7 linked regions of the Homo sapiens genome follow. The protein of the gene in region 6 purifies or fractionates together with the protein of the main gene of each other region. This does not show direct contact. Each region holds a gene or a part of one and is shown on either strand. Other genes may lie near its edges.

Region 1 (3,881 bases), on a different chromosome or scaffold from region 6:
TCTTTTTTTTCTTCTTATTTTTTCGGGGGACAGAGTCCCACCCTGTTGCCCAGGCTGGAGTGCAGTGGTACGATCTCGGCTCACTGCAACCTCCGCTTCCCGGGTTCAAGTGATTCTCCTGCCTCAGCCTCCCGAGTAGATAAGATTACAGGCGCCCACCACCACATCCTGGTAATTTTTGTATTTTTAGTAGAGACGGGGTTTCACCATGTTGGCCAGGCTGGTCTTGAACTCCTGACATCAAGTGGTCCACCCAGCTCAGCCTCCCAAAGTGCTGGGATTGCAGGTGTGAGCCACCACGCCCGGCCCCCTCATACACTTTCATTGGTGGAATGCCCTTCAGAAGGATTCCTTGGCAGTCATGGTACATTTGTCACTGTAGTGTTTGTAGACAAATTCAGAGCAATGCAGGTGTGATGACCGCGGGTAGAATCACATTCGGAAAATGACCTTTGGTTTCAGAAAAGAGCCCAATTAATGTCTGTGCTTTGGTTTCCTGTGTTCACCTCATGTGAGGCACACATGGGTTGGGAGGCAGTCTCAGCCATGAGAATTCAGAGCTGTGCCCCTCCGGTGCAGCTGTTAGTTCGAGGGGACCAGGCTCTGTGTGGTCCCGACAGCACTGTGTCTTCCAGGCACCAGCTGGTGGTGAGCAGCCCTCCGAGACCTGTGAGGCACGGGGACATGGTGCAGCTGGTCCACGGCATGACCACCCGCTCCCTGAACACGTGAGTGTGCCCGCCGTCTGCTCTGCTGCACCTGTGGGTTTCCTCTGTGGTTCTCTGTTCAGACCAAAACGTGAGCCCTGCCTTGGGCCGCTGCCCCCTGTCTACCCATCATCTGCATGTGTAGCAGCTCTTAGACCTACATTTGATGCCGGGAGGGGACCCAGGCCTGGCCGCGGAAGGGAGCGGGGTTAAGAGGAAGCAGGGGCTCTGTGAGGACTGGACAGAAGCACCTAGCACAGCCCATCCTAGGAGAGCTCAGGGCCCCGTGGATGAGTGTACAAGGACAGGCTGGGAATGTTGACCCGCTTTCTATGCAGAGAATGGAGTTTGGGCACACCTCCTTAAAGTGGTCAAGCTTAAAGTATGAGTGAGTCCAAGAAGCCTGGAAGCTCGGGCACGAGTGGAGCCGTGAAGGCTTCTTCCTTCTCAGTCCTTCGTCCTTGTCCGACTTGCCTTCCCGTGGTGCTGGGCACAGTTGCTCACACCCTCCTCCTTCCTCCCTGACTGCTCTCTCCACCGCCTCCTTTTCCTCTGTTGCTCTCAGTCTCTGAGGGCCCTCCGGCCTTGCTGCCTCTGCACAGGCCCAGTCCCGGGGCTACCTCTCCTGGACTTCCACCCGGCTGCCCGGGGCTCACCTCCAGCTCTCCACGACTCCCAGCTCCACAGGGGCGGTCTCTGGCCCTGGCTTTTCTGGTTCTCCCTGGAAAGGGCCCAGTAGCTGAGGCATCACCTGACTCCTTCCCCTCCCCTCCCATTGCATGTTGATTCCATTGGGAGATCCTGTTTCTCAACCTTCAGAACCAGCCCTGGGTAGGGGTCCTTCCTTCTCCCTCTACTCCCACCTCCTGGGGCCTGACCTCTCTACCTCGCAGCAGCCTGTCCGGCCTGCGGACCGTGCACAACCCACTTGCGTTGTTCCTCTGTGCTCAGTGACTCCCGTCACCCGCCAAGGTCCCTGGTGACCCTGACACACTTCACCCCCGCCACCCTGGCTCCCCCCAGCCCTGAAACAACCACCTGCGGGCCCCTTGGGGGCTTCACACTTGCTCCCTCTGCGAGAATGTTCTTGGACTTGGCTCCCCCATGGCCCCTCTATGTAGGGGTCTGCTGGGATGTCACTGCATCCAAAAGTGCCTCCTGGGTGCTGTCCCCCACCATTTGTTTTATTAGTGGCACTCCTACAGGTGCACGCTCTGCCCACCGGCATGATGGCTGTTTCCCAGAGGGCTGTGAGGGCCTTGTCTTGTTCACAGCTGGGTGGCTGCTCCTAGACAGTGCCAGGTGCATGGTGCGGTACCACATGGTTACTGAGTGTGTGGATTAAGAGGAAGTGGGTGTTCCTGACCGGGCGTGCTGGCTCACACCTGTAATCCCAGCACTTTGGGAGGCCAAGGTGGGCAGATCATTTGAGGTCAGGAGTTGGAGACAAGCTGGGCCAACATGGTGAAACCCCGTCTCTACTAAAAATACAAAAATTAGCCAGGCATGGTGGCATGTGCCTGTAATCCCAGCTAGACAGGAGGCTGAGGCAGGAGAATCGCTTGAACCCAGGAGGCAGAGATTGCAGTGAGCTGAGATCGCGCCATTTGCACTCCAGCCTGGGTGACAGAGTGAGACTCCATCTCAAAACAAAAAAGAAGTGGGTGTTCGTTAACATTGAGGTTGATAGCCTTTTCTCCCAGCTTATCTGCTGCGTCCCCAGGCCAGCTGGGCGCAGGGGCGGGCAGCTCAGCCCTGCAAGTTGTAGCATTGGTACTGCCAGCTGGCATCGCAGCAGTACCGGATCGGGCCTGGGCGCACGGTTCCTTCCTCTGAAACTTGGTTCGCTCGTCTAACAGGTGGAAGGTTCCACAGCAGAGTGTCCTTTTCTTTTGGAGATGTTCCCACAGGGCCTCCTGCCTGTTTAGTGTCCACTCCCATCGCCGAGCCTCAAGACCTCCGTCCTCAGTAGCAGCAACTCATGGGACTGGGCCACCCCTTATGGCTGAGCCGGCTTTGTTTCTGAAAAGCAACCTTTTCCTGCCTGAAAGATTTAGTAATTGCCTTCCAGAGGAGTTCAAGGAATTTTCTGAAATCTCGGTCTTGGTTTTCCAGGCATGATGTTGCAGCCCCCCTGAGCCCCCATTCACAGGAGGTCTCCTGCTACATTGACTATAACATCTCCATGCCCGCCCAGAACCTCTGGAGACTGGTGAGTAAGGCTGCGGCTATAGCAGCCACAACCGTCAGTAATGAACACTCCCTCACACGGAGCACTTCCTCACCCGGAGCACTCCCTAACACAGAGCACTTCCTAACAGAACACTTCATCACACGGAGCACTTCCTCTAACACGGAGCACTTCCTCTAACACAGGACACTTCCTCACACGGAACACTTCCTCACACGGAGCACTTCCTGTAACAGGACACTTCCTCACACGGAGCACTTCCTCTAACATGGAGCACTTCCTGTAACACAGGACACTTCCTCACACGGAGCACTTCCTCTAACACAGGACACTTCCTCACACGGAGCACTTCCTCACAGGGAGCACTTTCTCTAACACAGGACACTTCCTCACATGGAGCACTTCCTCACATGGAGCACTTCCTCACAGGGAGCACTTCCTCACACGGAACACTTCCTCTAACACAGGACACTTCCTCTCACACTCACACGGAGCACTTCCTCTAACACAGGACACTTCCTCACACGGAGCACTTCCTCACACGGAGCACTTCCTCTAACACAGGACACTTCCTCACACGGAGCACTTCCTCACATGGAGCACTTCCTCACAGGGAGCACTTCCTCACACGGAACACTTCCTCTAACACAGGACACTCTCACACTCACACGGAGCACTTCCTCTAACACAGGACACTTCCTCACACAGAGCACTTCCTCACACGGAGCACTTCCTCACACGGAACACTTCCTCACACGGAACACTTCCTCACACGGAACACCTCCTCACACGGAACACTTCCTCACACGGAGCACTTCCTCACACGGAACACCTCCTCACACGGAGCACTTCCTCACACGGAGCACTTCCTCTAACAGAACACTTCCTCACACGGAGCACTTCCTCACAGGGAGCACTCCATCACACGGAGCACTTGCTCACACGGAGCACTTCCTGACATGGAATGTTTGAAACTGCCGTTG
Region 2 (3,881 bases), on a different chromosome or scaffold from region 6:
GTTCAGGCTGTTATTACAAATTACCACAGCTTGGGCATTTTATAAACAACAGAAATTCATTTCTTACAGTTCTGAAGGCTGGAAATCCAAGATCTAGGTGCCAACATGATCCAGTGCTGGTGAGGGCCCCCTTCTGAGTTTTAAACTGCTGACTTGTATTTTCACATGGCGGGAAGATAGCTCTTTAGCATCTTTTTAAAAGGCACTAATTCCATTCCTGAGGGCTCCACTCTCATAACCTAATTGCCTCTCAAAGGCCACACTCCCAAATACCATCATAATGGGATTAGGATTCCAACATGAATTTTGTGGTTACAAGAATATTCAGTTAGTTGGAGAGATCCTTACATTTAAAATAAGAAAAGTGTCTTTTCGTGACTGCTATACAATTGGAAGAAAGTTATTGCTACGATATGAACAAAAACTAAAGGTATATTTTCTATAAAATCAAAGATAAATTGAGATAAATTTGTAATTTTAAGTATAAAGCAAAATAAAATACCTACAGCAGCCACGCAGGTATCATAGGTAAGATAACGTTGGCCATATTATGGAGACTGTACAACAAATTTTAGAAGATATACATGATAGGATATGTATATAAAGAGAGACTAAAATCCTGTATCTCATTGATTCATTGTGAGAGTAAAGCTTTTCATTAGCTGGATCTTGGAAAACTCCCACTTTCTACAAAACTGTCATTTCTCAAGCATATATATATATATACATATATATATATATATATATATATATAGTATTCAAAATTTTTTAGAAACTCTTGCATATAATGTCATCTTCAGACTTCAAAGCATTACTCAGATGCTCCTTTGGATTGTGCTTGCCAGTTCTTACACAGTTGAGAAACAGTTCTATAACAACTGTTTTTTAACCACATTCACTGTGTTTTCTTTTTGTGTGTGTGTATGTGTGTGTGCCTGTGTTGCAGAGAAGGCCAGCAATCGCCAGAACAATGGCAGAAGATGTACGGTAGATGCTCCGGGAATGAAGTCTACCACATTGTTTTGGAAGAAAGTACATTTTTTGCTGAATATGAAGGAAAGAGTTTTACATATGCCTCTTTCCATGCACACAAAAAGTATGTTTCTGCCTCAGAGAAAAATTAAAATATCAATCAGTCAAGCATATCATGTGAAAATAGTTTTCAAAAATAGAATGCATATTGTGTTCATGTGTTTAGGCATTCCGGAATTTTTGTCACAATATTCCCCAATGTTGAAACATTTGAACCCTGGTGTCTGTATGGTCTCTATAAGACAGTCAGGAGTAAATTATAATTTAGTAGGAATATTTCATTTAGCCACTTTTAAAGTCTTTTTAAAATATTTTAATCCATTAAGAATTTACATACATATGAAAATCTTCTTCACAGATCTGAATTTTAAGATGTTGATTAGGAACTAAAACAAAGTAACACTAATATTTCTAAAAACTGTACATTTGAAAAAAAAATCTCTGATGGTGGCCCTTGTTTTGGCCTGAGAAATAAGTTAAAAAATAAATAAAACTACCTTCCAATTCAAACATAGAACTTTTTTTTTCTTTTCCTTTTTGGAAAAAAAAAGGATTTACTTAAGAAGTAAAAATGTATGTATATAATGAAAATAACATATTATCTGTATTAAATGTTTTAATGTGACACATTTTGGAGGATTTACAATATACGTATATAGTCTACTAACTAATCTATTATGTAATGTACAGGAACCCCCAACTTATGATGCTTTGACTTACTATTTTTTTACCATGATGGTACAAAACAATAGCCATTCAGTAGAAACCATACTTCCAGTATCCATACAATCATTTTATTTTTCACTTTCAGTAGAATATTCAATAAATTACATAAGATATTTAACACTTTATTATAAAACAGGCTTGGTATTAGATGATTTTGCCCAACTGTAGGCAATGTAAGTGTTATGAGTATGTTTAAGGTTGGCTAGGTTAAAACTATGATATTTGTTAGGCTAGCTGTATTAAAAGCATTTTTTATTTAACAATATTTTCAACTTATGCTGGGTTTATCAGGACATAACTCTATTATAAGTCAAGGAGCTTCTGTATTCTACTTTACTTTTTTTTTCTGACTAAGTACATACCTATTTAAGACTATTTAAATATATATATTTTTTCTAAAATTTAAAGTAAACCAACTGTGATAAATTCAGGGACCCTGGTTCTCTTTCAGGTGACCATGGGTAAGTTTCTTTCCTTTGGCCAATAGTTTTAAGCTTTTTATTTATTTTTTTTAACCAAAGTAAGATATGCTGTTTATGTTTTTTGACCAAAGTAAAATTGTTGTAAAAATTCGCAAAATAATGTTACCCTTAGTGTATACATGCACTCATGTTTCTTATGTTCTTCCATTCATTTTCATTAAAATGTAAATTTATAGTGGTCATAATCAGCTAAATTGGTTTTACAACACACTAAGCACATAGTTTATTTTCCTGTAAAAATGAGGATCTTGAACTTCTAGGATCATTTCAAGCTTTAAAATGCTATTATTTAAAGCTTTTATTTTCCTCAGCCTTACAATAATTTACTAATTTTCTTACAAACTCTCTTTTTTTTTAAATTAAGGTTTGGCGTCTGCTTGATTGGTGTTAGGAGGGAGGATAATAAAAACATTTTGCTGAATCCAGGTCCTCGATACATTATGAATTCTACAGACATATGCTTTTATATTAATATTACCAAAGAAGAGAATTCAGCATTTAAAAACCAAGACCAGCAGAGAAAAAGCAATGTGTCCAGGTCGTTTTATCATGGACCTTCCAGATTACCTGTACATAGCATAATTGCCAGCATGGGTAAGTATAAACAAATTTGAAATATCATTAATTTATTTCTAAAATAAAAAATAATGATAAATACCAATGCATTTAAATTTTTATTAAAAGTTTAAAGAAAATTTCAAACATGCTGCATTTTACAAACTAGGTATGACTAGGTATACAGGACAACAGTTCTAAGTTGTGAATTTTTTAAAAAGTAAGATATTAGCCTACTGTGGTGGCATATGTCTATAATACTACCTATTCCAGAGGCTGAGGTGGAAGAATTGCTTGAGCCAGGAGTTTGAGAACAGCCTGGGCAACAGAAAAAGACTCTGTGTCCAAAAAAACCTCAATCTAAGATATTACAAAAACACAATCAACAATCATTTTATATTTCTCATTATATATAAAGCACCACACACTTTTATATTTCTTTTGTAAGTTCTCTTTGTAATTATCATCAAGAGAGGCTATTTCAAATATTCTTCATTTTCTCAAAATTCTCTTTCCATCTCTTACCTCACTCTCACCACTGAACTTGGCTTCTATGACACAGAAGAAGAAAGGTAAAAGAAAAAATACCTCCATGCAAATAAGAATTTCTTTACGGTTTGGCCTCCAAACCATCTACAAACCTACAAACATTTAGTATCTGTCACAAGGAAAATGTGTCATTTTTAACTAATACTGATACATTCATTTATTCCAGGAACCATGCCCTTGTTCCTCCTCAGAGACTTTACTCTTTAATCCCTCCTCATTACCTAACTTCATTTTCTATTCAGAATCACTGGCTGATCTCTCTCTCTCTGTGTCTCTGTCTCTCTCTCTCTCTCTCTCTCTCTCTCTCTCTGTGTGTGTGTGTGTCTCTTCATATCTCTGTGTGCACCATACACTTGTAATTTTGAACCTTCCATGATAACAACTTCAGAGACAAATTTCTCCAAAGTGTTGTGTTTAGTGGCAGGCTTTAAATTTTATTGTTGTCCTATGTCCATGATTCTACCCAGTTCAATCTGACACCTGCAGTCATATCACTGAAACTATTCAGGCAAGGTCACCATGTTCCTCTTTGTCACT
Region 3 (3,881 bases), on a different chromosome or scaffold from region 6:
ATATATAGATGGTGCTTATATCCAAAGTCTTTATTCTCTCCTTCATGTTTCTTTTTTTTCTTTTTTTTTTTTTGAGACGGAGTCTCGCTCTGTCGCCCACGCTGGAGTGCAGTGGCGCGATCTTGGCTCATTGCAAGCTCCGCCTCCCGGTTTCACGCCATTCTCCTGCCTCAGCCTCCCAAGTAGCTGGGACTACAGGCGCCCGCCACCACACCCGGCTAATTTTTTGTATTTTCAGTAGAGACGGGGTTTCACTGTATTAGCCAGGATGGTCTCGATCTCCTGACCTCTTGATCCGCCTGCCTCGGCCTCCCAAAGTTCTGGGATTACAGGCGTGAGCCACCGCGCCTGGCCTTCTTCTTCTTTTTTTTTTTAAAGACAGTGTCTCACTCTGTCGCCCAGGCTGGAGTGCAATGGCATGATCTCAGCTCACTGCAACCTCAGCCTTCCAGGTTCAGGCAATTCTCTTGCCTCAGCTTCCTGAGTAGCTGGAATTACAGACATGTGCCACGACGCCCAGCTAATTTTTTTATTTTAGTAGAGACAGGTTTCGCCACGTTGGCCAGGCTGGTGCCGAACTCCTGGCCTCAAGTGATCCCCCCTGCCTGGCCTCCCAAAGCGCTGGGATTACAGCCGTGAGCCACCGCGCCCTGCGCCTTCATATTTTTCTTAACCCTTCCTTTCTTCTTTAATTTTTTCCTGTGGGGGCATGTTGACCTGAGCTGGGGTCCACGCTGTCCGGGTTCTGTGTTCATCACATCCCCTGCCCGCACAGGACGTGAGCCTGCACTTCGTGCTCTGGGGCTGCCTGCACGTGTACCAGCGCATGATCGACAAGGCGGAGGACGTGTGCCTGTTCGTAGCGCAGCCCGGGGAACTGGTGGGGCAGCTGGCGGTGCTCACTGGCGAACCTCTCATCTTCACACTGCGAGCCCAACGCGACTGCACCTTCCTGCGGATCTCCAAGTCCGACTTCTATGAGTATGACAGCCCGAAGTTGGAGTGTGGGTGGCACTCGGAGGACCCCAACCCGTGGGAGTGGCCAGAACCCCATCCCTCAACCTCACTCCTGGAAGAGCAGAAGGGAGCCCCCAGATCTGGCCTCCCAGCGCCGGTGTAGGACGGTTTTGAGGCCTTCCTCTTTCATCCCAAGTCTGTTCCTGCAGGATCATGCGCGCACAGCCCAGTGTGGTGCTGAGTGCGGCGCACACGGTGGCAGCCAGGATGTCGCCCTTCGTGCGCCAGATGGACTTCGCCATCGACTGGACTGCAGTGGAGGCGGGACGCGCGCTGTACAGGTGCAGCTCCCACCGCGCTGCTCAGGCCCGGCCTAGGGGTGGGGACCTGGGGGTGGTCAGACCTTGCTGACCTCCACGCCCACTCAGGCAGGGCGACCGCTCCGACTGCACTTACATCGTGCTCAATGGGCGGCTGCGTAGCGTGATCCAGCGAGGCAGTGGCAAGAAGGAGCTGGTGGGCGAGTACGGCCGCGGCGACCTCATCGGCGTGGTGAGCGCGACCCCCACCCACTGACCTCTGGCCTTTTCCAGGCCAGTCCCTCGACAACTCACACACATCATCCCGGGTAATCCAGGGAGTGGTGAATGCAGCTCCCGACCTCTGAGGTCACCCAGTCCACTCCCCGCCCAGACCTCATTTCGTTGGAAAAAGGGGATTCCGCCTGTCGTGGATCCCTGTCCTCTCCCTCTCCCCAGAGCTCTAATGGGTAGCGAGCGAGGCTTGCTTCCCTACACCCCCATTGCAGGGGAGCCCTAGATGGGGCAGTACAGCCCCCTTTCCACCCATCTTCGGCCTCCTCATTCCCCACCCAAGCAGCCCCAATCATGCACGCGGCCCCCCAGGTGGAGGCACTGACCCGGCAGCCGCGAGCCACGACGGTGCACGCGGTGCGCGACACGGAGCTGGCCAAGCTTCCCGAGGGCACCTTGGGTCACATCAAACGCCGGTACCCGCAGGTGCGGCCTGTTGTGGGCGGGGCAGAGAGGCGGAGGCGGGACTCCGGGGGGGTGGGGGCCGGGCCTAGTGTGTGGGCGGGGCTTACAGAGGGGCGGGGTCGAGGGAGGGGCCGAAGCGAGAGAGTGAGGGCGGGGGCTCTCGGGGGTGGGACCCAGGTAACGGGCACCCAGGAGCCCCGGCATAGGAGGGAGAGGTGGGACCTGGACAGCCGCTTCCCAGGTCTCACTGAAATGCCGGCCTCCAACGCCCCCAGGTCGTGACCCGCCTTATCCACCTACTGAGCCAGAAAATTCTAGGGAATTTGCAGCAGCTGCAAGGACCCTTCCCAGGTGAGAGCCGGCCGGCCCAGAGCGTGCTGGGAGATGTAGTCCGGCGTCCAGAGCATGCTGGGAGGGAAGCCTTCTTTCCTGAGGGATGCTGGGAAATGGAGTTCCGCGAAGAAATCGTGCCCCTGAGGGTTTCAAACCCTAAGTAGGACCCAGGTGCAGAGCATTCTGGGGAATGGAGTTCGTGTTCCTGAGCATGCTGGGAAACGAAGTCCTCGACCCCTGGCGTGCTAGTTAATGGGCTCGAAAGTAAATCAGTGGTGCCGGGGAGGGAGTCTTAGGCGGTGGACTTGGCGTAGTCTGCCCGGGAGTCAGGGCTTGCTGGGGAAGTCCACGGCCTGGACGTTGAGAGAAAGGGAGTCCTAGATCAGAATATGATGGCAGGGCCGTCATGGTGGCTCATGCCTGTAATCTCAGCACTTTGGGAGGCTGAGGCAGGAGGATCGCTTGAGCCCAGGAGATTGAGTTTGAAACCAGCCTGGGCAACATAGTAGGACCCCCGTCTCTACAAAAATTTCAAACATTAGCTGGGCTTGGTGACACATGCCTGTAGTCTCAGCCACTCAGGAGGCTGAGGCGGGAGGATTGATTGCTTGAGCCCGGAGGTCGAGGCTGCAGTGAGCCGTGATCGTGCCACTGTACTCCAGCCGGGATGACAGAGCTAGAACCTGTTTCAGAAAAAATAAAACAGCAAACAAACAAAACTCCCCATACCATGATGGAAAATAGTCTGTGGATTGTTGTTTAGGACTCTGGGCACCTCGCCTTCTGAAGTTACAGCTTGCTGGGAGATGTAGCCCCCTGTTTCAGCCTGTGGCTTCAGTGAGCTAGAACAGAATGGGGCGTGCGGTGGGGTTGGAGGCCTGCTGAAATGAGGGCCTGAGTTTCTACATTGTGGTGGCCAGATTCTGGGCCAGCCCAGCAACCTAGATACCCCTTTTCCCTCCAGGGGTTCTACCCAATTGGCCCTGAGCCCTAGATCCCCCAAGGCGGGGGCAGGGCGGTAGTGGCAGAAAAGACATCATTAAGAAATTACAGAGGCCTGGGGCGGTGGGTCACGCCTGTAATCTCAGCACTTTGTGAGGCTGAGGCAGGTGAATCACTTGAGGTCAGGGGTTCGAGACCAGCCTGGCCAACGTGGTGAAACTCATCTCTACTAAAAGTACAAAAATTAGTCGGGTGTGGTGGTGGGTGCCTGTAATCCCAGCTACTTGGACGGCTGAGGCAGGAGAATCGCTTGAACCGGGGAGGCAGAGGTTGCAGTGAGCCGAGCCTACGCCATTGCACTCCAGCCTGGGCAACCAGAGCAAAACTCCATCTCAAAAAAAAAAAAAGAAAGAAAAAAAAAAAGAAAAGAAAAGGAAAGAAATTACAGATAGAGAATACAATATCTAGAAGACAAAAGAGGGTCATCTTGCCGTGTGGCTGAAAGAGGGAGGGAGGAAGGGAGGGAGAAAGAGGCTTTTCTAAGGACAGTGAGCTGAGACTTGACAACTAAGATGGGGCCAGACATGAAAGAGAAACCAGGGGTGCTGCACAGGAGGCTGGTGGTTTTGAAGCACTGAGGAGGAAAGCGAT
Region 4 (3,881 bases), on a different chromosome or scaffold from region 6:
ATATTGTGGGTCTTTCCTTAGTGAAGGATGAGATTTACATTTTCAAAGATGATTTAAATAATTTTTTTTAATGGCTGCAAACCCTTGGCTTGTCTAAGGAATGAACAGAGGGTGTAAAGGGCTTATTAAGAAGTAAACTGAAATGACATTTAGAAATATGGAAATCCATTAAGAGTCTTTAAGGAGCTTGGGGAGAGGAGCTTTAATAAGAAAAGCCATCTGCATTGACAGCCAAGAACCATTGTTTCTTTGTTGAAAACTGACCATTTCAACCTGCACATGCAGTTGAGGATAAGTTTACTGATCTTGCCACAGATGAGTTTCAAACAGAAGGAATAAGGAAAACAGTATCAATTGTTTCCCTGGAACTCCATTCAGATTTCAAGGCGAGTGCAATCAGAAAGGATGATTTCTAACTTGGCTGGGTTGATTTAATCCCTTTCCAGATGATTGACATTTTCTGCTCGGCAGAGTTCAGGGACTGGAATTGCAAGAGTATTTTCATGCGTGTTGAAGATGAACTGGAAATCCCTCCGGCACCTCAATCTCAACATTTCCAAAACTGAACTCATCACCCCTCTTCCCCCACCACCAAAACTGCTCCTCCTCCTGTATTCCTGACCTCCGCCATCCACCCCGTTGCTCAAGCCGGAAACTCGGCAGCCCTTCCAAACTCTTCCCTCTCTCACTCCCCACATCCCATCGTCTCGGCCTTCACAATCTGTCAGTTCTAACCTCCTAAGCAACTAGGCCTTCAGTAAATGTGATTCACCTCTTCTTTCCCTCCTTTTCCCAAAGCATCCCTCTTAGTCTAGGTCCTTGTTGTTTCTTGCCTGAACTCCTGCCATAGTCTTAACTGGTCTCCTTGCTTCCTGTCTTATCCTCCACCGTCTTTCTTTTATACTGACACAAGAATGGTCTTTCTGAATTGCACATGTGAGCATGTCACTTCCCTGCTTAAATTTCTCCAGTGGATTCCCAGGGACTTCAGGATCAAGTCCTAGTTGTTCAGCATGGCATCCAAGACTCTTTATGATCTGGCCCTTGCTTACCTCTCAGCCTTAGCTCTCCCAACTCTTGCACAGTCACTGCTCTTCAGCCATAGTGGATCACTCACCATTCCCAGATGTACCAGGCTCTCGCACACCTCTGCACCTTTGCACGTGCTGTTTGCTGTGCGTGGAATGCCCTTCACTGTCACCACCCTGCTCATCCACTCTACTAATGCCTCTTCATTCTTTTATACTCAGCTTTCTTTAAAGTTCTTCTAAGCTGAGTTAGGTGTCTGTCCTTTATGATCCCGCAGTATTCCATGAATACGTATATTCTCACATTTATTGTACTGTATTATAATTGTTGAAAACTTGTCTGTCCCATTTAGAATGTGAGCTCCTTGAGAGCAGAACGGTGTCTTCATTATCTCTGTATCCCCAAGGCTTTGCACAGTGCCTTGCTCATAGTAGGTTTTCAATAAATGATTATTAAATAAATAATAAATGGTAGTGGTCTCTGCAGAAAGAATCAATGGAAAAATCAGATACAGCTTAGTATTTTTTTTTCTCTTCTTGTATACTTATAATCATAGCCTCTTAGAGTTGAAAGGGACCTGAAGCAAATTGCCTTTAATAGCAACCCTGAGTGGAGGTCACCTAGACTCATCTTGAATACTTTCAGTGATGGGGCACTCACATATTTATAAACATCAAAGCCCATTTGATTATTGGATGACTCAGAACTTTTCCTTGTACTGTAAAAATCTGCCTCCCTTTGGTTTCCACTTATTCCTATTCTATATTGAGGGTACACCAAGCAGCCCTCCTTCCTCTTGCAAATTCTTAGGACAGCTCACTCATTCATGGCCACCTCTAACCAACTACCTGCTTTTTCCTCCAGGTAGAATATCTTACATTTCCTTAAGTCTTCTGTGCATGACATGATTTCTACACCCATTATCACCCATATTGCTGCCTTGGATGTTCCTTAGTTTATGGGCCTACACTACTTGTTATTTTCTTCTACTCCCTAGCCAATCTCTGAGTAAAAGTAGTTGCCAAAACTCTGAGTAGAGTGTGACTTAGTAAAATTTAAAATAAGAATATATTTACATTAAACAATTATTGCTCTTTTATGTTTTCTGTTTTTCTGTTAAACATTTTTAGAGCATATTTGTAAAAATATGTCATTAGTCCAGTATTCTTCATTAAACTAACTGTAATAGCACTTGGTGGGAGTTTTGAATCAGTAGAGATTCCCAGCCTCCAGTCTATATATTCACCTGGCCGCACCACCAGAAATCCAAAATCTTGAGTATTAGCAGGAGGTATCTGTATTTTTCACAAAGCCCCCAGCATATTCTGAGGATGGAGATTGATGGCATTCTCCCGTCTCCTTCCAGGGACACTGCTTGGAAAGCTGAACCTTCGAGCAGCCACTTGCAGCTGCATGGTGTGCCATCACAGCTGTTCAGGTGGAAGCTTTTCAGGAATCAGTGGTTTCCCTGGCTCTACCTTGGAATCATCGAAAAACTTAAAAGTTACTGAGGCCTGTCCCCACAACCGGAACTTTCTTGGTCTGGGGTCCGCATGGGCAACTCAGTTGTCAAGCACTCCCCTGGTGATGCGGATGTACAACCAGTGTATTGAATAGAATGAATAATTGCCTGAGCCTGCTTTAACCAGCAAGGGGATTGGCAATGCAGAGGGAAGGATAGTGACTAGAATACACCTGGGTGTTCTCTAGGACTGGCCGTACAGCTGTGCTTCCAGAGTATCGGAGAGGGGTGTTCATTAAGGATGTGGGACAGGACTCAACTCGCCTCATTTCATGTTTTCAAAGCTTTGGTTTTGAGTATAGCATCAAATGATTGAATAAAATAGAAATCTGCCTTTAGGGTCCTCATATTTTCTGCTCTACCAAGGTGTGGTAGTTTGGTCAGCTCCCCATAGTTTTCAAATGTACTTTAGATAAGTTTGCATTTCAACCTCTATCTGGAGAATCACATTTATCTTGCCCTTCATTAAGGTCTAGCAGTTTCCAAAATGTCTGTAGAGACTGTGTGGGGAAGGAAGATGGATGGCCTGAATGAGACAAGCCCCTTCTCCCGCCGCCTCCTCGACCTGCCCCCAGAGTCTTCTCTGCATCTTCACCCTGGTCACTTCATCAGGCCCCTCCCGAAGCTCCCACGCCACACCCCACACCCCGCAGGTTATCGCAACTGCCCTAGAGGCTGCCTGCGACCATTTGCAGCTTGTGAAAGTGATTTTCTCAGCCCTTTGCTGAGATAATGTCCCTGGGACAATGACCTTTAGTAGATGCAGAGAGATTGCACTGCCACCCCCAGCTGCTGGCTTGGGAACTCTCCAGCATGTTTACTTGGTGACCATGATGTGCAGTCCATAAGGAAGCCCACAGGGAAGCGTGAACCACTGGGAAATAGTGGAAAGAGCAGCTTCCACTGGCATTTCCCCCTAATCTAATCTACCTCAGTGATTTAGGACTAACTCTTCCTAGAATGTTTAGTTACAAAGATAAGCTTGCACATATAAATACGTTATCATTCCAAACCCACCTCCTCACAGAATGTGGGAAGGTCAGGATTCTGACCCCTCTGTCTTTCCTTCTCTTGTCTCTCTCCTTCTCCGAGACTGAGCCTCTTGATTTCTGACTCTCATGTTCACTTATAGTCCTCGACCTCTTTGAAGCCTGATATTGATTACCGTGAAATGTCAATTGTCTGATTGCAGTAGGGCACCTGGAAGTTATTCAGATAAGCAGAGGCGTTTTGAATGTTAATGAAGCCTGTTGGGAGCCGTGACCTTCTAAGTGATGGTGTTTCAGGAAAAGGAAGATCAGGCAATTGAAATGTCGTTCTCTTTTTTTAC
Region 5 (3,881 bases), on a different chromosome or scaffold from region 6:
TTGGATAATAATCTTCACATGGATAAATGAGAGTTCATCGTAGAAGTTGATCCTGTTGCTAGCTTTGTTCCTATGAAAGTGAATTCATGACCTTGTGGAGCTTAACATTTAAAGAAGTCTAGACCAATTTAAATGGGGTACTTTAGGGGTTTGCTTTGACAGATATGTTGCTTTGTTTTGACAGATAGATTGCAAGATTATTGGCTTTCTCTATAGAGGACTGGTGGCTTTTTCCTTGTATCTTGAATTTCCATCTTCAGTTATTCATTCATTTAGTCATTTATGTACTTTTCATTCAATAGTTATTTCTCAAGCACCTACCCAGCTCCCGGCCACTTTTCTTAGTCTGAGAGGATACACTGATGAGTCACTCTGGTCTCATTGAGCTTACCTCATCGTGGGGCAGACAGTAAATAAACAAGTAAATGAATAAGTCTGTCATGTGATGTCCTAAGCCACAAGTGCAGTGTAGAAAATAAAGCAGTGTAAGGGATGGAATAATGGAGATCAGTACTATTTTAGACAGGATAGTCAGGAAAGAGCTTCTGAGAGGGGAGCTTTGAGCAGAGACCTGAGTGAGACAAAGGATCAGGCCCTGCAGGGATCTGAGGGAAGAGCATTCAGGCAGAGGGAAGTGCATGTACTGTAGTTCTGGTGTGGACCTCTGTGGGTTCAAATCACAGTAAGAAGGCTGGCGTGGAAAGGGCAGAGTGAGTGAGGCAGAGGGTGTTGGGAGATGAGGTTAGATGGGTAGGGAGACCGCACAGACTCTGGCAGTTGTCATGAGAACTTTTTACTTTGAGTGAGGTTGGAAGACATTGGAGGGTTTAAGCAGGGGCATGACATAATGAGATTTAAGGATTTAAATTAAAAAACATCACTCTGCCATCTGTCTGGAGAATCGACCCCCAAGAGAGACTTCATGTAAAATGATAAGATTCTATCATAGGTGTAGATAGTTTGCGGTTACATGAGCAGAGTGGTAGGACTCCCTTTTTGATGGTGGAAATGAGGATGACACCTTGTCTCAGGGCTGGTCTGAGGGAGCGAATGACATGATCCTCTCTTGGGTTGAGGGCCTAGAGGCAGTGTGAGTTACTGCTTCTTGTCATTGGGCTTTGATGTCTCCCAGAGCTGTGGCCTTCTACCTCCCTGATGACTCAGTGTTGACTCTAGTCCTGACTGCACAAGTGCTTACACTCAATTAAGTGGCAAGAGGGACTGTTTCCTACTACTGGGGTGCTTGGTTTTCAGGGGGCCCTTCTCTTACCTCGCTTTTTCACCAGCGAGCTCATGTTTTTCAGACACGGGATGCCTCACTCTGTCCCAGTACATCCTCCTTGACCCCATCCTGATGTTCTTCATCATGGCTGCCATGCTGAGCATGGTCAAGTACAACTCTTGCGCCGACAGGTCAGAAACTCCATCCCCGGGAGGGGAGGGTTGGAAGCTGTGGCAACTCCAAAATTTCTGTAATGGCCAGGGCCAGGGCGGGTGCCCAGAGACTTGTCTTGAAGCTGATTTTAAGGCAAGCATACTTTTTGTTTGTTTTTTTAACTTAGATTGTCCATTTTAGATCATAAAAATAGATTTTAAAAAGTTTTCTACAGGTGATTTTATTTTTGCCATATTCAAGACCGAGAAAATGTCAGTTGTCTTTTTCAAGCGTATTATTATTATCATGTTTACAATGGAGTACAATTGGGTAGGGGTTTTGGGATATCATGGGGGGTCCTAATACTTTCCCCACCCACCTCTTGTAACCAGTGCTGGTTAGGAAATCCCGGGACAGGGCTGTCCTTCACATACTCTGTCCTAGAAGGGAGGGCACCAGGGTAGATGCTGCCTGGAAACTATCTCCCTTTCGTCAGTGGTTGCATCCAGTCCTGACCTAATGATGGGAATAGCATATGTAAAGGTTGGCTTGAATGGTCCATACCAGCCAAGAGGATCCTTCCAGGTCCTGGTCAGTTCTAAAGCTGACTTGGAGGGTCCGGTCTACTTGCAGAATAGTCTTTTCCAGATCATCCTTCTACTTCTGAGAAAGTAGAATAAGTCATTCATTCTATTCAAACCAGAAGAGTTGGCCCCTCGTAGGCTTTTCTGGAAGTTAACTTTGCACAGCCAGGCTCATTAAGCTCCATTGTGCTAATCAAACCTGATCAGTGACTCTCAGCCCACTCTGGCTTTGGTTGTTGTGCTTATGCCACATCCACTTCCATCTACCATTTCTTGAGTACATACTGTGTACCAGGTACTATGCGGGGAGCTGGAGGTACTGAGCTCTGTTGGGCTTGGCTGTTAAGGAATATTCACTCTGGCAGAGGAGGCAGCCAGAGAGCCAGAGAATCATAGTGTAGAGTACTAGGTGCTATACGAATAGCAAAATGGTTAAGAGCACTAACATTGACCCAATTGCCTGGGTTAAAACTGTGCCCCACTGCCTGCTAGCTGTATTACTCCACCTCTCTGTATCTTGATTTCCTCCTGTGCAAAAAGAGGACCTAGTGACAGGATCCTCTGTGTGCTGTAGTGACGGCTAGAAGAGTTAATATATGCATCGTACTTGGAATGATGCGTGACGCATACATAGTAAGCACTCGGTAAATGCTGCCTTCGACAAGGGCAGAGGTGACACAAAGGAGAGGGCTGCCTGAGTCCAGGGGCACCTAAGGATTCTCCTTTTACTCCTGCCTGACTGGTCACTTGTGAAGAAGGAGCCCCCACTTACCCTGAGCCCTGTACTTAGCCAGGAGCACTATGGACACTCTCCCCTGAAGAATACCCTGCGCCCTCAGACAGTGCTTTTCCTGCCGTTCCAGGGGTTTCACAGGCCGCCTCCTCCATGGAGCCACGCCATGGTCCCTTGAGGCTAAGAGCCCCCAAGACAGGGCACAGCACAGCCGCTCCAAGTCTGAGAACTGCCCTGTCCCCTGCTGCGCTTGCGTTTGGCTTTGGTTCCAGCTGCCAAATTGAACTCCGTCTTGTTGATTTTCAGGCCCTTCTCTGCCCCCTGGTGGTTCTGGCTCAGCCTGACTGGCGTTAGTCTTGCTGGTGCTTTAGGGGTCAAGTTTGTTGGCCTCTTTATCATCCTTCAAGTGGGGCTGAACACCATTGCAGACCTTTGGTACCTGTTCGGAGACCTCAGTCTTTCATTGGTGAGCACCCAAGGGTTTGCTGTGGAAATGTTTTTGCTCCCTGATGTTGCTGAGTAGGAGCTGGTGGCCTTCTCTGTCTCTACTGCAGGTGGCAGAGTGGCTGTGTTCTGGGTCCCAGGTGGGCTGGACCCCCCAACCTCCGCAGACAGCAGGACATCAGGGAGTGGGCCCGGCTGAGGACTGGATAGGGTTCAAGGGAGAGGATAGATTAACATTCTTGGAAGTCTCTTTTTGCATTTGTTTTATAATGTCTGTCTTTTTTTTTTTTTTGAGATAGAGTTTCACTCTGTTACCCAGGCTGGAGTGCAGTGGGCCGATCTTGGCTCACTGCAACTTCCGCCTCCTGGGTACGAGTGATTCTTTTGCCTCAGCCTCCCAAGTAGCTGGGATTACAGGCACATACCACCATGCCCAGCTAATTTTTGTAGTTTTAGTAGAGATGCGGTTCTACCATGTTGGCCAGATTGTTCTCAAACCCCTGACCTCAAGTGATCCGCCCGCCTTGGCCTCCCAAAGTGCGGGGATTACAGGCATGAGCCACCGAGCCCGGTCTGAACTCACAATTTTCATTTCCTGACCCACGGTCTCCATATTTGGAGGCCAGTAAGGGCCTTTACAGTTTATTATTTATTAAGGGCTGATTCTATGCCAGGCACTATGCGAAACGCTTTACCTTCATTATCTCATTTACCCCTCATAATAGTCCTATGAGGTAGGGAGTTA
Region 6 (4,654 bases):
CCTATATTCGAGGATGCCTGGTGGTGCTTCAGAGAAACAGAGTGAATAAAAGACTTTGTGGATGCCGTTAAGCTGGAATCAGAACTCAGAATGCTCACCGAAAGAAGGAAGCATTTAAGATTGAGCAGGAAATAATGGCCTTGTTTCAGCAAAGAGATGACACCAGTCCAATATGTTTATTATTGTTGGTTTATTTCATAATTTCATTTTGTTACATTCTCAAGGAACAGTGTGTTCCCAGTAGCATCTATCAAGTGAACCCTGGAGGCTGGTCACATTCATAATCTTTTGTTTTTCTGGCTACATAGAGGTGATTTTGAACTACAAGATCATCTCAGCTATTCAGAGTTTAGATTTTATTTAGCCTTATTTGTTTTGCCTAGCATTTATGTATTTGAAAATATCTTGATTTTTAATCTTCTATCACCTTGGCCCTTACCTGAAGTGAACTTTGTTTGAACTCAATTGATTTCACCTCTCAATAAATATGAAATTAATCTGAAATGAATTGAATTGTTTGGCATATTTTACCTCTTCTATGTGCACTAATCTATTTCACACATTTTCAGTTTGTTTAGAGATACATGTTCCAATGTATCTGAGTAGAAACTAGTGAGATGGGAATGGATATAGCCATAATATTCCATCATTGAATTCCATGGCATTCACTCAAATGTAACTCACCTGTTTTAACAGTACCTTAATTTGGCCTGTATTTATTGGACTTGGTGTTCTTTTTGCTGTGAGAAGACGGTGAAGGTGATTCTTGAATGTTTGTTTTCTGTGTTGCATCATGTTTGTACAACACGGTAATATATTTGGACCTTGATTAAATAATGTAAGAGGGGAATTTGATCAAAAAATAAAATGCACAAGACTGTTAAAACAATGTCTAATTCTATCCATGCAAAAATGGAGTAGAATCCTAAAATGCTTATGACAACTACTTGATTGCTTCTAGTCCCTCTTTTAAATACTTTAATTTACTTAGATACATGTATCATACGTACTTCTTGGCCTCAGTTTTCCTCCTAATAGCCTAATTGTTCTTTTTACTGTGCAGGCATAACTATATAACAAAGTAGGTTTTTTTTTTCATGCCATTTATGAGTCATATAATTTAGATAATTTATTGTTTATTTTACCATTATTGTTGCTAACAAACTTCGTTGTTTTGCATTGTTTGTTGGGACAATTAAATAGTGTACCTCTTGGACTAATAGATTAAATAGTTCATCAGAGATAAATTGCACTGCTGAAGCATCAAAGGAGAAAGACTGAAGTGTAGAATCTGCACTTCAATCTTTCTCCTTAATTAGCACCACCAGGGAATTTGATTCAAGTTCTAGAGGGGAGTGAACCCAGGAATTGGCTTAAAAACAAAAACATACACACAAAAAAACCAACGCTCGCAAGCAATTATTTATGCATGCGGTCCACGCACTCAGTTTGAGAAACACTGACTCGACTTAAAAGTCTTTATAATGCTCAGATTTCTGAAATGCTATTGACCTGAAAACATCTCATGAAGTTATTAGTTTGAACGCGTGGTGGCGGTACAAGCTAAGAGAGTGAATGAAAGCTCTGCAGACTCGGTGGACTCCGTTTCATCCAGAAGCCAAGTAAAAATACAGACCACGTTTACAGCTAAAGCTGAGATAGATGTGTCCGGGAAGGCAGTCGTCGCCAGACAAGTTGTAAGAACGAATTTAAAAATCTCTGCAAAGACATCCGAGAGGGTCGACGGTAGATGTGGTGATTGGGAGCTGAAAAGGATTTTTCTTCCGTATTCAGACATAATAGACATGATGCAAACTAAAGTACAGAACAAGAAAAGGCAAGTGGCTTTCTTCATTTTATTGATGCTTTGGGGAGAGGTGGGTTCTGAATCGATTCAGTATTCCGTATTGGAGGAGACAGAAAGTGGCACGTTTGTGGCCAACTTGACAAAGGACCTGGGACTGAGGGTGGGGGAGCTGGCTTCGCGGGGCGCTCGGGTTGTTTTCAAAGGGAACAGACAACATTTGCAGTTTGATCCACAGACCCATGATTTACTGCTAAATGAAAAACTGGACCGGGAGGAGCTGTGTGGCTCCACTGAGCCGTGTGTGCTACCTTTCCAAGTGTTACTGGAAAACCCCTTGCAGTTTTTTCAGGCTTCCTTGCGAGTCAGAGATATAAATGACCACGCCCCGGAATTCCCTGCCAGAGAAATGCTCCTGAAAATATCAGAAATTACTATGCCAGGAAAGATATTTCCTTTGAAAATGGCACACGATTTAGACACCGGCAGCAACGGCCTTCAGAGGTACACAATCAGCTCCAACCCTCACTTCCACGTTCTCACCCGCAATCGCAGCGAAGGCAGGAAGTTCCCGGAGCTGGTGCTAGACAAACCGTTGGACCGCGAGGAGCAGCCCCAACTCAGGCTAACGCTGATCGCGCTGGATGGCGGGTCTCCGCCCCGGTCAGGGACCTCCGAGATTCAGATCCAGGTTTTGGACATCAATGACAACGTCCCCGAGTTTGCTCAGGAGCTCTATGAAGCACAAGTCCCTGAGAACAACCCCCTCGGCTCTCTGGTTATTACCGTCTCAGCCAGAGATTTAGATGCAGGATCGTTTGGGAAGGTATCTTACGCCCTGTTTCAAGTCGATGACGTCAACCAACCCTTCGAAATAAACGCAATCACAGGAGAAATTCGGCTGAGAAAGGCTTTGGATTTTGAGGAAATTCAGTCTTATGACGTGGATGTTGAGGCTACAGATGGTGGAGGCCTATCAGGAAAATGCTCTTTAGTCGTCAGGGTCCTGGACGTGAATGACAATGCCCCTGAACTCACCATGTCGTTCTTCATCAGCCTCATCCCAGAAAACTTACCAGAGATCACAGTGGCAGTTTTCAGTGTTTCAGATGCAGACTCTGGACATAACCAACAGGTTATTTGTTCAATAGAGAACAATCTCCCCTTTCTACTAAGACCTTCCGTGGAGAATTTCTACACCCTGGTAACAGAAGGCGCGCTGGACAGAGAGAGCAGAGCCGAGTACAACATCACTATCACGGTCACTGATTTGGGGACACCAAGGCTGAAAACCCAGCAGAGCATAACTGTGCAGGTCTCCGACGTCAATGACAACGCCCCCGCCTTCACCCAAACCTCCTACACCCTGTTCGTCCGCGAGAACAACAGCCCCGCCCTGCACATCGGCAGCGTCAGCGCCACAGACAGAGACTCAGGCATCAACGCCCAGGTCACCTACTCGCTGCTGCCGCCCCAGGACCCGCACCTGCCCCTCTCTTCCCTGGTCTCCATCAACGCGGACAACGGCCACCTGTTTGCCCTCAGGTCGCTGGACTACGAGGCCCTGCAGTCTTTCGAGTTCCGCGTGGGCGCCACAGACCGCGGCTCCCCGGCGTTGAGCAGCGAGGCGCTGGTGCGCTTGCTGGTGCTGGACGCCAACGACAACTCGCCCTTCGTGTTGTACCCGCTGCAGAACGGCTCCGCGCCCTGCACCGAGCTGGTGCCCCGGGCGGCCGAGCCGGGCTACCTGGTGACCAAGGTGGTGGCGGTGGACGGCGACTCGGGCCAGAACGCCTGGCTGTCGTACCAGCTGCTCAAGGCCACGGAGCTCGGTCTGTTCGGCGTGTGGGCGCACAATGGCGAGGTGCGCACCGCCAGGCTGCTGAGCGAGCGAGACGCAGCCAAGCACAGGCTGGTGGTGCTTGTCAAGGACAATGGCGAGCCTCCGCGCTCGGCCACCGCCACGCTGCACGTGCTCCTGGTGGACGGCTTCTCCCAGCCCTACCTGCCTCTCCCTGAGGCGGCCCCGGCCCAAGCCCAGGCCGACTCTCTCACCGTCTACCTGGTGGTGGCGTTGGCCTCGGTGTCGTCGCTCTTCCTCTTTTCGGTGCTCCTGTTCGTGGCGGTGCGGCTGTGCAGGAGGAGCAGGGCGGCCTCGGTGGGTCGCTACTCGGTGCCCGAGGGTCCCTTTCCAGGGCATCTGGTGGATGTGAGCGGCACCGGGACCCTATCCCAGAGCTACCAGTACAAGGTGTGTCTGACGGGAGGCTCAGAAACAAATGAGTTCAAGTTCCTGAAGCCGATTATGCCCAACTTCCCTCCTCAGGGCACTGAGAGAGAAATGGAAGAAACCCCCACCTCTCGGAATAGCTTCCCGTTCAGTTAAGTGTGGGATTATTTTACTAAATCTTACTTATGTTTGGAGATCTCTTTTAACTTAAAGTTACATGGTCTGTTTCTTGTTTATTTTACCTCTATTCTTTAGGTTGAAATTTTATATAAAGTAAGATACTGGTATCTTAGTATTTCCTGTTCATGCTTAGTAGTTTATTACTTCACTTGAGGGTACTTGACAATATGAACAAAAAGTAAATTTTTATTTGCATAATTTTAAGCTTTTGAAATTAAATTATCTATTCTTCCCCCCCCCAAAAAAAAGTATTGTAAATCCTTAAGTAAAATTGTATTTCTAGCTATTGGTAAGAGTTGTTTCACTATTGCTATGTAGGACTGTTTAAAATGTGAGTATCTGATATTATTTAATCCTCCAATGTCTCATTTTGCAGTAACTCCTACAGTGTGTAACACTAAAAATAAGAACTAATGATGGCTAAACACTAAAGTAGCCAT
Region 7 (3,881 bases), about 12 Mb from region 6:
GGCAGTTTTATTATTGTTATTGCTGTTGTTTACTTAAAATAAAGCTTATTTACTTGATTTTATTTTGTATCTTAGTCCAAACCTGCAGTGCCTTCAAGAGTTCCTGTTTGTCACATGATTCAATTACCCTGACCAAAATCAGGAGAGCCAGCAACAGGTGCTTAAATTGCCGGTATACCTGGATTATGTTTAGGATTTAATAATTTACACAGGAATATAGAGAACTGTTTTCAAGTACATTAAAACACTTTTTAAATCCAAAAGAATCAGTAGAAACTATTTAAACTAATTTCTTCATTTTAGATATCAGAAATTTGAGGATCAGAGAAGCTAACAAAGATCTTGCCCAAAAAATCAAGTATCAAGTATCATACACTGAGCAATGAGACTGGATCAAGGTGTTTGGATACTCCCATGCCCTTTGTACTACCAAACTTTAAGAAAATCTTGTCAAATGAGACAAATGCCAAATGAACACAATGACTTTTCAAGTAAAAGTTAAGATAATTAACTTTCCATCCAAGTTGGAAAGTTCTAGCCTCTGAGATCCTTACATCTTCTTGCAAGCATGCATTCTCAGATGGTTGGTCACTACACATGGTAGAAATTTGCCCAACACTGTTGCTTTGCAAATTTCTCGCATTCATTTTAGCCTTCAAAAGAATTGGATCATACCTGTTGTTCCAGAGGTAAAAATGTAAAGACAAGTAGACTTGAGGAGTGAGACAACATGGTGGCTGCGTGGCACGGGCTCATCAGGTGAGGTGCTCAGTTTTTCTTTGAGTGAAATTACACCTTGTGGAACAGAATCTTTCATCCCCCAAACACTGATATTTTCTGAGAGGCTTGGAAGGATTTCTTCTACCGTTCCAAGCAAATCTAAAAGCCAAAGGGTTGGGAAGAGTTAAGCAAACCTTAAATCTCAAACAATTCACTTTGGAGTTGCTTTTGTGTATTGAAACAGGGATAAAATGTAAATAAAATGCTGATTTCCTTCTTATGTTGGATAAGTAATATCACAGTCATTTTATGGTTCCGTTTCAACAGGACCAACTGAAAGGGAAATTTAGTTATCACCTGACAGACCAATGCAAGCAGTCCAATTCAGACTGAATTTAAGAGACTCCATTATTCAAATTATGGGTTTCCCTCCACCAATTTTTAAATAAAACTATTTAAAACTCTGTCTGAATCTAAATTCAGGATACTGCACTAAACATTTTCCTTGAAGTACAACTCAGTAGCTAGTTATTCCAAAAGCTGTCTGCAGGTTACTCTTCAGTTCCACTGTAATGCAAAACATTTGGGAGAATCCCCGACTGCTCTGAAATCACAAGATCATTGTGGTTTAGAAATCATTCCAAAGCCAGAAGTTAAGTGAGTGGGGACTCCAAAATGGGGGAGGGTGGGAGAGAGAGGTGAAGACTGAGAAATTACCTATTGGGTACAATGTTTACAATTCACAGTTTGGGTGATTGGCAATTTAAGGTTCAGAAAGAAAAAGGGACAAGTTTCTTAGGAAGGATCTGCTACAAGGATAACAAAGGAGCAACTGGTGAGGTGAGACTATGTTGAGTTAATCTGTGAAACTTAACCAGACCTTCCTGATTTGCCCAGTAACCCAGGAAAAAAATATCATCTGTTCAAGAGAGGAGTAGTGGTGAAAACAAGAGAGACAGAAGGTGGGACTGGGTCCTTGATGAGGAAATAATTAAGCACTGAGGTAACCAACACTCTGTGGGATACAAAAGAAACAATGTCATCATTCCTATACAGTCTTTTGTGTAAGCAAGTGAAGCATCATTTTTTTCTCCAGAGTAGACAGGCATACAATTATTTATATTATTTAAATTCTTTTTAAATTCACCACTCCCTTACTTTAGCATGGATCTCTGACATGAAGTTCAACTTTTATATTCTACATGGCAACTCTGATTTTACTTCCTTATTTCTATAATATGCTATACATTTAGAAGGTTCAAGGGATTTCTGAGTGCTATATAGGTTATCTTAAAATCTATATTAACGTCCTTGGGGATATTAAACAATAGTACCCCACTGGCCTTTTGGAGTTAATGCAAGGGAAGTCCAACATTACTGGCAACTACCAGAAGCTAAGAGACAAGAAAAAATTCTTGGATCCTTCTGAGGGAGCATGGCTCTGCTGACAGCTTTATTTTGGATGTCTAGCCCCCAGAACTGTGAGAAAATAAATTTCGCTTGTTTTAAGCCACCAAGTTTGTGGTACTTCATTATAGCAGCCTTAGGAAACTCATACATCAAGCTCACAAGTTGGTGGATGGTAGAATTAGTAATCTAACCATAGACTAACTCTAAAACTATAAAATTACCTCATAAAAGAAATAAATGGCAAAAAAGAAAAAATAATGGTGCTAAATGTAAAATAGATACAGATTGGCCAGGCCCGGTGGCTCATGCCTGTAATTCCAGCACTTTGGGAGGCCGAAGCAGGTGGATCACCTGAGGTCAGGAGTTCGAGACCAGCCTGGCCAACATGGTGAAACCCCATCTCTACTAAGAATACAAAAAAAATAGCCAGGTATGGTGATGGGTGCCTGTAATCCCATCTACTCAGGAGGCTGAGGCAGGAGAATCGCTTGAACCCAGGAGGCGGAGGTGGCAGTGAGCCGAGATCACGCCATTGTACTCCAGCCTGGGCAAGAAGAGCAAAACTCTGTCTCAAAAAAAAAAAAAAAAAAAACCCGGATCAGAATGCTCAAGTTCTGTACATGAAAATGTGGACCTTTACACCTAAAGCAATTATATTTTTTCTAATTTTTTCAGGAAAAATTTTAAAATAATCACAAGATATATTCTGCTTTGAGTTTGAATTCAGAGTTCTGCATTAAACATTTCCCTGGAAACATAAATCAGTATCTGGTTCCCTCAAAAGGCCAACTATCAGTCATTGGGTTAGTTCTACTACAATGAAATACATTGGGGGAAAACTCTTGATTTACTTTCATGAAATCTATAACCCAGATTGATCACAAAGCAGCAGCAAGATAAATATGTCAAGTGGGACTAAGCAGTTTATAAATAAAACCTGTATGAAAATAGAAGGCAACACAGAAATTATAATGAAGTTGATATGCGGTGGAAAGTGGGGTTCATAGCCTTAAGATGTCTTATTAATTTTTATTTCTATAACAAATCTAAGTAAAATATAAGAATCCAGGGAAAATGCCTAGCTCTACTTAACACACACACATCATGCTGCTGTATATAGATTGCTTTGGCAAAATGTGAAAAATCACCAAGGATGATAGGAGGAGTGACAAGTTAGAAACATGAAAAACTGGATAAGCAAAGGATCTAGACTTTCTTTTTAATGTTTGTTCCAGATTTTGTTGTAATGACTCTTTCTCAGGTTTTGAACTTGTAAGTGCAAATCTCTGAACTGACTCATTACTTTAATTTCAAAATCTCTCATCTAGAATAAGAAATTCCCAGCACAAACTTTTATATGTTCTTAATGATATGTATGTCTAAATTGGGGAAATAAGTGCCAAGAAAGTTAAAATATGAATAAGTGTGGCTCCAAATCTTTGTTGGAATTCTAGAGCCCAAAGAAACTGAGTATTTACCAAGAGTGATAATTTTTACAGCAAGAAAAAAGAAAGTGAGAAGGTTCCTAGGAATCAGAGGAGATACAATGTCACTTCTTTCATAAGTTAAAATTAATTTTATTTAGGTGAGATGCTTAGAATTCTCAAATAGAATTTAGTGTAACAAAATTATTTCTTCAATAGTGGTAGGAAATGTGGGTGAGGATAGAGAAAGTTAAAATAAAAGAGTCATGTAGGGGATAAAGAAGAGTCATGCAGGGGATAAAGAATCATTATCACTGCCAGTCTTTC

Evidence for each region.
Region 1: the proteins of PCDHB6 (region 6) and POMT1 purify together in Homo sapiens (affinity purification with mass spectrometry; one large-scale study listed by BioGRID and IntAct). This does not show direct contact.
Region 2: the proteins of PCDHB6 (region 6) and KCNT2 purify together in Homo sapiens (affinity purification with mass spectrometry; one large-scale study listed by BioGRID and IntAct). This does not show direct contact.
Region 3: the proteins of PCDHB6 (region 6) and PNPLA6 purify together in Homo sapiens (affinity purification with mass spectrometry; one large-scale study listed by BioGRID and IntAct). This does not show direct contact.
Region 4: the proteins of PCDHB6 (region 6) and ST7 purify together in Homo sapiens (affinity purification with mass spectrometry; one large-scale study listed by BioGRID and IntAct). This does not show direct contact.
Region 5: the proteins of PCDHB6 (region 6) and POMT2 purify together in Homo sapiens (affinity purification with mass spectrometry; one large-scale study listed by BioGRID and IntAct). This does not show direct contact.
Region 7: the proteins of PCDHB6 (region 6) and SLC27A6 purify together in Homo sapiens (affinity purification with mass spectrometry; one large-scale study listed by BioGRID and IntAct). This does not show direct contact.

The regions. Positions count from the first base shown.
Region 1 is NC_000009.12:131,512,604-131,516,484, forward strand, and holds part of POMT1 (protein O-mannosyl-transferase 1), read left to right. Parts: intron 1-635; coding exon 636-728; intron 729-2,822; coding exon 2,823-2,919; intron 2,920-3,881. UniProt on the Homo sapiens protein: Transfers mannosyl residues to the hydroxyl group of serine or threonine residues. Coexpression of both POMT1 and POMT2 is necessary for enzyme activity, expression of either POMT1 or POMT2 alone is insufficient.
Region 2 is NC_000001.11:196,339,294-196,343,174, reverse strand, and holds part of KCNT2 (potassium channel subfamily T member 2), read left to right. Parts: intron 1-69; exon of another isoform or gene 70-119; intron 120-946; coding exon 947-1,096; intron 1,097-2,604; coding exon 2,605-2,834; intron 2,835-3,881. UniProt on the Homo sapiens protein: Sodium-activated and chloride-activated potassium channel. Produces rapidly activating outward rectifier K(+) currents. Contributes to regulate neuronal excitability.
Region 3 is NC_000019.10:7,549,132-7,553,012, forward strand, and holds part of PNPLA6 (patatin-like phospholipase domain-containing protein 6), read left to right. Parts: intron 1-775; coding exon 776-981; intron 982-1,166; coding exon 1,167-1,298; intron 1,299-1,385; coding exon 1,386-1,509; intron 1,510-1,862; coding exon 1,863-1,976; intron 1,977-2,230; coding exon 2,231-2,306; intron 2,307-3,881. UniProt on the Homo sapiens protein: Phospholipase B that deacylates intracellular phosphatidylcholine (PtdCho), generating glycerophosphocholine (GroPtdCho). This deacylation occurs at both sn-2 and sn-1 positions of PtdCho.
Region 4 is NC_000007.14:117,222,415-117,226,295, forward strand, and holds part of ST7 (suppressor of tumorigenicity 7 protein), read left to right. Parts: intron 1-446; coding exon of another isoform or gene 447-566; exon of another isoform or gene 567-1,493; intron 1,494-3,881. UniProt on the Homo sapiens protein: May act as a tumor suppressor.
Region 5 is NC_000014.9:77,300,367-77,304,247, reverse strand, and holds part of POMT2 (protein O-mannosyl-transferase 2), read left to right. Parts: intron 1-1,304; coding exon 1,305-1,413; intron 1,414-2,998; coding exon 2,999-3,158; intron 3,159-3,881. UniProt on the Homo sapiens protein: Transfers mannosyl residues to the hydroxyl group of serine or threonine residues. Coexpression of both POMT1 and POMT2 is necessary for enzyme activity, expression of either POMT1 or POMT2 alone is insufficient.
Region 6 is NC_000005.10:141,148,453-141,153,106, forward strand, and holds the start of PCDHB6 (protocadherin beta-6 isoform 1 precursor), read left to right. Parts: upstream 1-1,604; 5' UTR 1,605-1,805; coding exon 1,806-4,190; 3' UTR 4,191-4,654. UniProt on the Homo sapiens protein: Calcium-dependent cell-adhesion protein involved in cells self-recognition and non-self discrimination. Thereby, it is involved in the establishment and maintenance of specific neuronal connections in the brain.
Region 7 is NC_000005.10:128,982,131-128,986,011, reverse strand, and holds part of SLC27A6 (long-chain fatty acid transport protein 6), read right to left. Parts: intron 880-3,881; coding exon 676-879; intron 1-675. UniProt on the Homo sapiens protein: Mediates the import of long-chain fatty acids (LCFA) into the cell by facilitating their transport at the plasma membrane.